Regions from separate parts of the Homo sapiens genome. Here region 2 is reported to be linked to region 1. The links are microRNA targets in miRTarBase. Many come from high-throughput screens and were not tested one by one. Region 1 holds a microRNA gene; the other region holds the end of a gene's coding sequence.

The links. Region 1 holds the annotated microRNA hsa-miR-424-5p (CAGCAGCAAUUCAUGUUUUGAA, at 1,316-1,337, shown strand). A microRNA usually pairs through its seed, bases 2 to 8, with sites in the 3' UTR of a target mRNA and lowers its output. Matches are read on the target gene's strand: a 7mer-m8 pairs with bases 2 to 8, a 7mer-A1 pairs with bases 2 to 7 and ends in A, and an 8mer does both.
Region 2: miRTarBase lists ZBTB16 as a target of hsa-miR-424-5p. Seed matches in the 3' UTR shown: 7mer-m8 at 2,811-2,817, 7mer-m8 at 1,431-1,437 and 7mer-m8 at 1,163-1,169.

What each region holds. Positions count from the first base shown.
Region 1 is chrX:134,543,866-134,548,016 of GRCh38, reverse strand. It overlaps MIR424 (microRNA 424), which reads left to right and starts at 1,306; the gene lies at 1,306-1,403. It overlaps MIR503HG (MIR503 host gene), which reads left to right and starts at 1,387. Exons shown (of 3, transcript NR_024607.1): 1 at 1,387-1,465; 2 at 3,220-3,303; 3 at 4,018-4,151. MIR503 (microRNA 503) reads left to right here and starts at 1,619; the gene lies at 1,619-1,689.
Region 2 is chr11:114,249,934-114,253,933 of GRCh38, reverse strand. ZBTB16 (zinc finger and BTB domain containing 16) reads right to left here. Exons shown (of 7, transcript NM_006006.6): 7 at 1-3,608. The coding sequence ends at 3,379. Among named protein-coding and RNA genes, the nearest start is that of NNMT, 44 kb to the left of the region's middle.

The sequences.
Region 1 (4,151 bases):
CAATTTAGGGAATGGGGTTATTGTTACTAATGACTTTTTTTTTTTACCATGACATAGTGTATTTGTTACCACTGGATCTCAGTCTGGATGTTATAAATTCGATACTTAATCTTATTAAATACTCTGCACATTTTATTAACTAATAAATAGGACACTTAACATTCATTGTACTGGTTTTGAAAAACCGACTTAATTTGTAAGTGTAACAAGATACTTACAGTTGGATAATTTAAATGTCTATTACTTGTGCTGAAATGTATTTAACTTTCAAAACCATTACAGTTAGTGCTGATTTTGTTGTTTTAACTTTTAGGTTTGTGATTGAGGATTTCAGAGTGGGTTTTTTTTTTAATGCTTAATTGAATATTGTATTCAAACAAAAAGAGGGCATGCATGTGACTTGTTGCTAATATGTGTCCATTTTAAAAAGGAAAAAGTGGTATCTAATGAGTTAATCATTAAGGAGTATGCGCAGTGCCGGCCATTTCAGGACATGAAAGTTTCTGTGGAGCTGCTTGAAACAGGAAGGAGCGACTTGACATCAAGTATTTAAACTTTTTGATTTATGTTTTGATAGATGACATTGATAGGTATAAATTATAAATAAGTTTGAGTAACCAGTTTAATATGTAAACTGGTATTTCATCTACAGAAAGTTCTCTGTCATTGTTTGGAGCTCTTTAAAATAACTCAGCTGGGGTGTTTAAGAATAAAAACACTAGCAGTGAGTTAGGACATCTAATGCTTTTAAAGATAGATGTATATGTCGCAACGATAGTGTAAGAATCAGCTGAAGCTACCGGTGAGGTTTTGGTTATTTTCTTTCAGTCATCTGAGTCCATTTCCAATAAAGGTTGTTTTTTTGTTTCGTTTTTTGTTTTTTTTTAATGGGGACAATGAATGAGACTTGTAATATGCAGCAGGAAGAAGTTTCACCAAGACTTTGAAACTGGCAAGAATGATCCAGATGTCCAATTGCCTCTACTTAACCTTATTCGTCTACCTTCAGAAGTAATTAGATTCTCTTCCACACTAATTCGTATCCCCCATCGCTCTGCTTTTCACCCACTACGTTGTTCCAAGATTCATCCTCAGGGGAAAAAATTGAGAGCCACACTTTCGGCTCCACCTGCAGCTCCTGGAAATCAAATGGTGAAGTTATAAGAAGTACCTTAACTTGGAGTGAAGTGGCCTAGTCATAAGTTTTGCCCTATTCCTTGCCAGGGGGTGGGGCGGGGCTTCCTTCAGTCATCCAGTCTTTATTCACCCGCAGGTACCCCCAGATCGATCCCCCTTCATTGACTCCGAGGGGATACAGCAGCAATTCATGTTTTGAAGTGTTCTAAATGGTTCAAAACGTGAGGCGCTGCTATACCCCCTCGTGGGGAAGGTAGAAGGTGGGGTCTGCCGGACGCGTGTTCCTGCCACCAGGTGCCCGCTCCCCGCGAGGCCGGCTCAGGAGCAGGTAGGTGGGCGGGGGCTCGCGTCTCTGTTTCCGGCGGGTCCTCGCCCTTGTCCACGCAGCAGGGCTGTAGTCCGGGGAGGGCAGTATTCCTGGCTAGGCTGGGGCGCATAGGCGGTGCGAGTCGAGGAGAGACGCGGTGCCCGCGCTCAGCCGTGCCCTAGCAGCGGGAACAGTTCTGCAGTGAGCGATCGGTGCTCTGGGGTATTGTTTCCGCTGCCAGGGTAAGTCTGGGACTGCCGTTCGGGCCTACCCAGCAGGTAAGTCTTAGGCCATCGCCTGCGGTGTCGGCCCCGGGAGCAGCGAGACCCAAGATTGCATCAAACGTTTGCCCCGTCTCTGCATATGTGACTGGACGTGAATGATGCTTCATTTTGGCACCCCCTTTCCCTGCTCAGGTAGAATGTAAACAATTGAAAAAAATCCCTTCCCAATCAGAATACCACCCACAGGACAACGAAGAAAACCTATCTTCAGTCCCCACCCACGAAATGCTGGGGGGTGGGGAGGACTGGAAAAGGAGTAAGGGGAGAGGAAGGGTGAGCAGCTGCAAGAAGTCTTTACACCTCTCTGCGGTTCCTGGTAAACGCGCTCATGTCCTGGGTATGGAAGGGACTTAAGAATTCAGGAAAGATCAAAATAACGGGCCTCTTCCCCACTCCCTCGCCCTCCCTTCCCCGCTGCTGGGGGGTTAGGGAGGCTCCGTGGAGCTCCAGCACTCTAGAAGGATCGGGTGAGGCGCGAGGCCTTGCGGGCGGGTGAACCCAAGGTGGGGTGGAAGGCTCCAACCCGCCCAATCTGAGCCCGAGGCCTGCTGAGAAGCATGGGGGCCTTGGGATAGTTCCAGAATGAGGATGTGCGTTTCTAGCTGCTTTGCGCCCTCCTCCCCCAAAAATCTGCTACCACAATTCCAACCCGGCGGCACGCCCCCAAGACTCCTTTGTCGCCCCAGGGGCGGGACCTGAGCTGTCGATTTCAGGAGCCCTTCGTGACTTCAAAAGTCCTGGGCACTGTTGCTCATGAGTGCTGCACAACTGTCGCCCTCTAAAGCCACCTCCATCCCTCACTGGGCTGGCCTCCTGAGCCTTCGGTGAGGAAACGGGGTTCCGAGTTGCCCGCCTGAGAGCTTAACAGTCTGACTAGAAAAGGGCTAATTCGCTTTCTGTGCAAATCTCTTGAGCTAATTATTTAATCTGAAACATGGACAGGTAAAGGACCATTGGCGGGCGTGGGGAGGGAGGTGTGGAATCTTTCCCACACTTTTTGTCACCTTAAAGAAAAAAAAAAGACACCCAAACTCCTCTGGTCTGAATGGGCTGCCTGGAACTGGGCTTCCCGGGGCCAGGAGTGGGCCCCTAGAAGTTTCCCAGTTTGGGGTGGGGCCGGGGTTCCGAAGTCTAGAGCTGGGAGTCGGGTTCAGCGGCCCGAGACGCTGGCTCTCCCAGACTCCCTTGCGCCGGGGCAGTGCGCGGGGGCGGCTCGGGTCCCTCCCGGGCCGGCGGGGACCCTCAGGCTCCCGGGGCGCCGCCCACCAGCCCGACCCGGCGGCCTAGAAATCCCCATTCTGCTCCCGCCTCGCCCCGGCCGGCCAGCGCAGGGCCCCTCAGGCCCGCAATCTCCAGGCTCAAACGGCGAACAGGTCCCCGCATCCGCCTGCCTTTGCACTTGGGGGTGGGAGAGCCACCTTGTGACGCCCCTTCTGCCTCTCACCAGCTTCCCCCTTTCTCCCCGTCCTGTACGGTTCCCCCTGGAGCCAGAAGGAAGCCCGGTGCCAGCCAGCCTTCCTGAAAGACCAAGCCCGCGCCATCCGGCTTCCTCCAGTGGACGCCTGCAGGACCCAGGTGAGACACGGAACCGGTTGGGGACGCGAGCCAGGGATCCTGACCGGTTGGGGGCGGCGAGCAAGGGATCCTGACTTGGGGGCGTTGCCTCCCGGAATCCAAGCGGCCTTTTGCCCGGGTCTCCCGAGATGCATCGAAATTGAGCTCGTCCACACAGCCCCCTGACTGCGTGATGCCCTTTTCTGACTTAAAACATTCCTTGTACCTTTATTTACACGATCCAAGTTGCAGTGTGCCTAGATTTTCCTCCAAGGACAAAAATGTGAATAAAGCAATATTTTAGCCAAACATTTCTGTGTCAATTAAGAAGATTGCAATTCGTTCCAGACTATAAATTCTCTTTAACAACTCCCTAAGGTATTCTTTTAAATTGTTTTTCAGCGTTGCTAAATGTGCATCATAATGTGTGGGAGACTTGTATAAAGTGAATCAATTTATACTCAGCTGATTAATTGACCCGATGTTACCACCTCCAAGGAGGCACCTTTCCACTATTTTCTCATTTTTTCCCCAACACATGTTATTTGTTAGTGAGGAAGCTGCGTGCACGTGGCATTGTATAAAGTTTATTAGACAGACGTGGCCCTTAAACTAGGAAGAGCTTAGTCTAACTCTAAATCTAAAATTCGACATTTCGGTAAGTTGTGAGACAAGATACCCAGGTTGTTTGATAAACCAGAATTGAACATAATTTTTTAAAAATTTAAATCACAGGAATGTTTTTCTTGAAGGCATCCAGCATCTCCAGTTAGCAGTACTGATTTTTTTTCCCCCCAACAAAGGAACACTACATCAACACTGTTGGCGGGGACCTGGACACAGAAGACTCCTGTTTCAAGAAAATACAA
Region 2 (4,000 bases), not on the chromosome of region 1:
CAGCCAGGGGGCCGAAGGAGTCAGGTGGCATGAAGAAGAGGGGAGGACAGATATTCAGATCCCACCTGGGGAGAGACCCCTGTCTACCCTCCTCCTCTCCCCTTAACTCCAGACACATATAAAGCCTCCAGACAGCCTCTTAGCTTGCCCCCTGGCCACTAGGCCGTGCAACATTAGAACTGTTCTGTTGTTGTAGGTAGGAAGTTGGAGAAGAGGCATGTTAGACTCTATTCAGGTGTCTTCATGGGGAGAGGAAGGTACAGTAAGTTCAGAGGTGTCCCCAGACAGTAGCCCTCAGAAACCACACTCCCCTGAGCTCTCCCCATACCTCCCTACTGGGGTCTGCAGGGCCCACGGGGTTGGGTGGGGCATCCAGGTGCTGATTTAGTACCATCCATTGCTGCAACACCAGATTACGACAATACTGCATGATTTAACACACAACCACACACACAAAGCACACGCGCACACGCACATACATGTACAAAGGGATATTTTGGTGGTGGTGGATTTTTTTTTGTCTTTTGTCTTCCTATTCACATTACAAAAGGAAAGGGCAAGGTTCTGCAGAACTGACGAAGGAACTAACAGATACTACAAAAATATTACAATTTGTGAAGATTAGCTCAACCCTCTCAGCTTTTATGAATGGAGCGGGGAGGGGCCCAGGCTGAGTGGGAAGGGCATGGGAGTGAGGGGGCCAGCTAGTTCTATGGAATAGTTTGATTTTTTTCTCTTCCTTCCCCACCAATGTTGAATGACATCTTGCTGTTAAAAATACTGTTTTCTGGGATTTACAGATCCCCTGAGGGCCAGCCAGTCCCCGCTTCTTCCCAGACCAGAGGAGGAAGCCATAGTGCATAATGATTTCTTACAGACGGCCCCTCCCCCAAATGATTTCACCCTTTTCACATTATAAACATGACAACTGTTCTAGTCACGTATTTCAAGTTTAACTTCTTTTCCTTTCCAAAACACTAAGTCGTTACTATAGTTGCAAAATAGCATCCTCCCTACTTTACCATCCCTAATCCACAGTCTAGTGACACCGTCCTCCCAATTCACATCCTCCCAACACACAATTTTAAGGCCTTCAGATTTGGTGGATGAGATTGAAGGGGAGGGCAGGAGGGCTGGGGCCGAGGGACGGGGGGGTCGTCGCAGCAGCACCCATCCCTCCGGCTTCCCTACATTCCTCGTGATCCTTCTCCCCAAAACCGCTTCCCTAAACCACTTTGTAAAACCTAAGATCAAAACGCAGCCACAACTTTCTCAGAGAGAGAAAGGAAAGAAAAAATAATAATAAAAAACTCTTACACATAAAGCATGAGATGAAACGGAGGGTCCGTCCCAAAGCAAACACGAATATTGCAAATGTGCTTTCCAAAATTCAGGAGGGTCGGGGGAGGTTGGGGAAAAGAGGGAGGAAGAGCAGCAGAATGGGAGGCGGGAAAGGAACAAAAGAACAACTGGACAAACATAAGAGGTAGCTTTTAGAAAAACAACACCCCCACCCCAACACAACAAAACAAAGGCTGGATCCCGCCCCCCTCCCCAAAGACCAGCCGTGAAAATAGACCAATTCTGGCAATGAGAATGCACGCACAGAGGTGAGACCACACAGTTGCAAGGATCCAAACACAGGCCCTCAAACCTCAATGGCCCAGCAAATTGTAAGAAAGGTGGGATTCTCTCCAGAGTGTTTTAGGCGGAACGGATGGTGGCCACAGGTGACTTCATGCACCAGCGGAGCCAAAAGTGACTCCCTAGTGCCCTCTGGGGACCATGAGACCCCAAAGCAACATCCCCTCCCCACCCACGCTCTTCGCCCTCCTCGGCCCTCACATTCAGATCCTGAGTATCAACTCCTCCTGCACAGTTCCTGCCAGCTGGGAGGCTGGTCTCCAGGGGCACGGGGAGGGTCTTGACCAGCTGAAGTCTATAAAAACAACTATTAATTTACACAAGAAACAGAAAAGAACACCCTCCCCATTCCTCCAAGCCCCAACCGAAAAAGAGATACAGAGGTTAAGAAAGCTCATGAGGTCACAAAAAACTGAGGTAATTCAAGTACAATGTGCTAACAGGGGACACAGAAAAGAAGCAAAACATAACACAAGGCCAAAGCGCTTTCAAATCCTCCTCCTCCTGCAGCTCCTCCCCCTCCTTCTGCTCCTCCTCCTCCTCCTCTCCACTGTGGACCGAGGGGCGCTGTGAGTCAGGAATTCTGTGCGACTCTCTCTGGACCTGGCTTTTCTTGCTGAGCTCACTACATCTGGGGTCCCCAGTGTGACTCAACAACTTTCTCCCTTGCCCAGCTTCCCTCATCCCACGGGCTGGGTGTCCTCTTTTCCAGGTGTGGGACCCCTCTAGAGAAAGACATCCACAACCTACCCTCGGAACCTCAGCCCATTCATGGATTCCTTCTCCTGGGACTGAAGTAGGGCTACGTAGGGACTGTGGTTTGTTTGGTAGGATATTAGGTATTTAGTTGTGATGCTTTTCCATTTTGGAAGCAGCGCAGCAGGAATCTTGCTCACGATGGTGCTGGACTAGGGTGGGGTATTGGATTTGTTTTGTGTTCTCAGAAGGCTGAGGGTAGGAGGGACCCTGAAGTCAGAGGCAGCTATCCCACTAGGGAACCGGAGAAGGATGGAGACACCGCCAGGTCCCTGAGGGGCTGGGACTCCCCTGGGACTTGGAGGACAGGAGTCAAGGGGAGGCTGGGAACAAAGAGCTGGAGGAGGGGCAGGGGTCCTGAGGCTCTCAGAGACCACCGGGGGACACCCAGATGTGGCAAAGCAGAGGAAAGCAGCAGGTGGGCTGAGTGGTGGGAAGAGAAACAGAGCCCTTCTCCTCCCCAGTCAGCCGCCAGCAAACTAGAGCTGCCATTTTGAGCAGCTAGTGACCCAGCCCAGACCCATCAGCAGGGGAGCGCCCTTCTGGCTCACCTCCTCCCTCCCTTCATCTCCTGGGGGTCTTGGTGGAGGAAGGCCGGCACAGACCGTGTGGCTCTGACCAGAGGACCTCTCACCTGCTTTCTAGCCTCCATTTCTGGACACATAAAAGAAGGTCTGGGTGAAGGAAGGAGAAAAATGTGCCACCATTTGAGTGAACAAAATACCCAACCCCATCCCAGAAAATCAGGCAAACCTCCAGCCGGGAGAGGAGGGTGGAGGCCCCCAGAGGAGGGGCAGTGGCTTGGCATCCAGGTCATCTGGAGCCCAGAGAGAATCCAAGGCCAAAAAGCTACCAGGTTTCCTTTTCCTTCTGTTTTTTTTTTTCTTTTCCTTTTTTATTTGTCATAGTCCTTCCTTCATCTCACTCCAACTCTTCTTTCCTGGCTCCCCGCTCGGCTCCACCGCCGCGGGCCTCCCTTCACACATAGCACAGGTAGAGGTACGTCTTCTCTATCCTCCAGTCGGGCGGGATCTCCTCGGGCTTGTGGCCCTTCATGTGCTTCTGCATGGAGGAGAGGCTGGGGCAGTACTCTGTGCAGATGGTGCACTGGTAGGGCGAGGCGCCGTTGTGCGTTCTCAGGTGCTTGATCATGGCCGAGTAGTCCCGGGAGCGCTGGTGGCAGAGCTTACACTCAAAGGGCTTCTCACCTGAGGGCGGAGGGACAGGGCAGGAGAAAGTGAGGACAGACAGAAGGCGGTGAGGGCACCATGTCACCCTCAGGCGTGCCAGGGAAGCTGGGTTCCTCCAGCTGGGCTTGCTCCAACAGAACTTTCTGGGACAATGAAGGCACCACCCAAGACGGCAGCCACCAGTCACACATGGCTATGAATGAGGCTGGTGCGACTGCAGCTCTACAGTTTTCTAATTTTATTTCATTGTAACTAATTTAAATAGCTACATGTAGCTAGTTGACTACTGGATTGCCCAGCTCCTTGTCTTACTATTCTTAACTCTCCCAAGGCCACAGTCTTTTCCCTTTCTAATTAAGAAAATGGGTGTCTAGAAAGAGAAAGGCCCCAAAGTCCTCAGGAATGGCTCT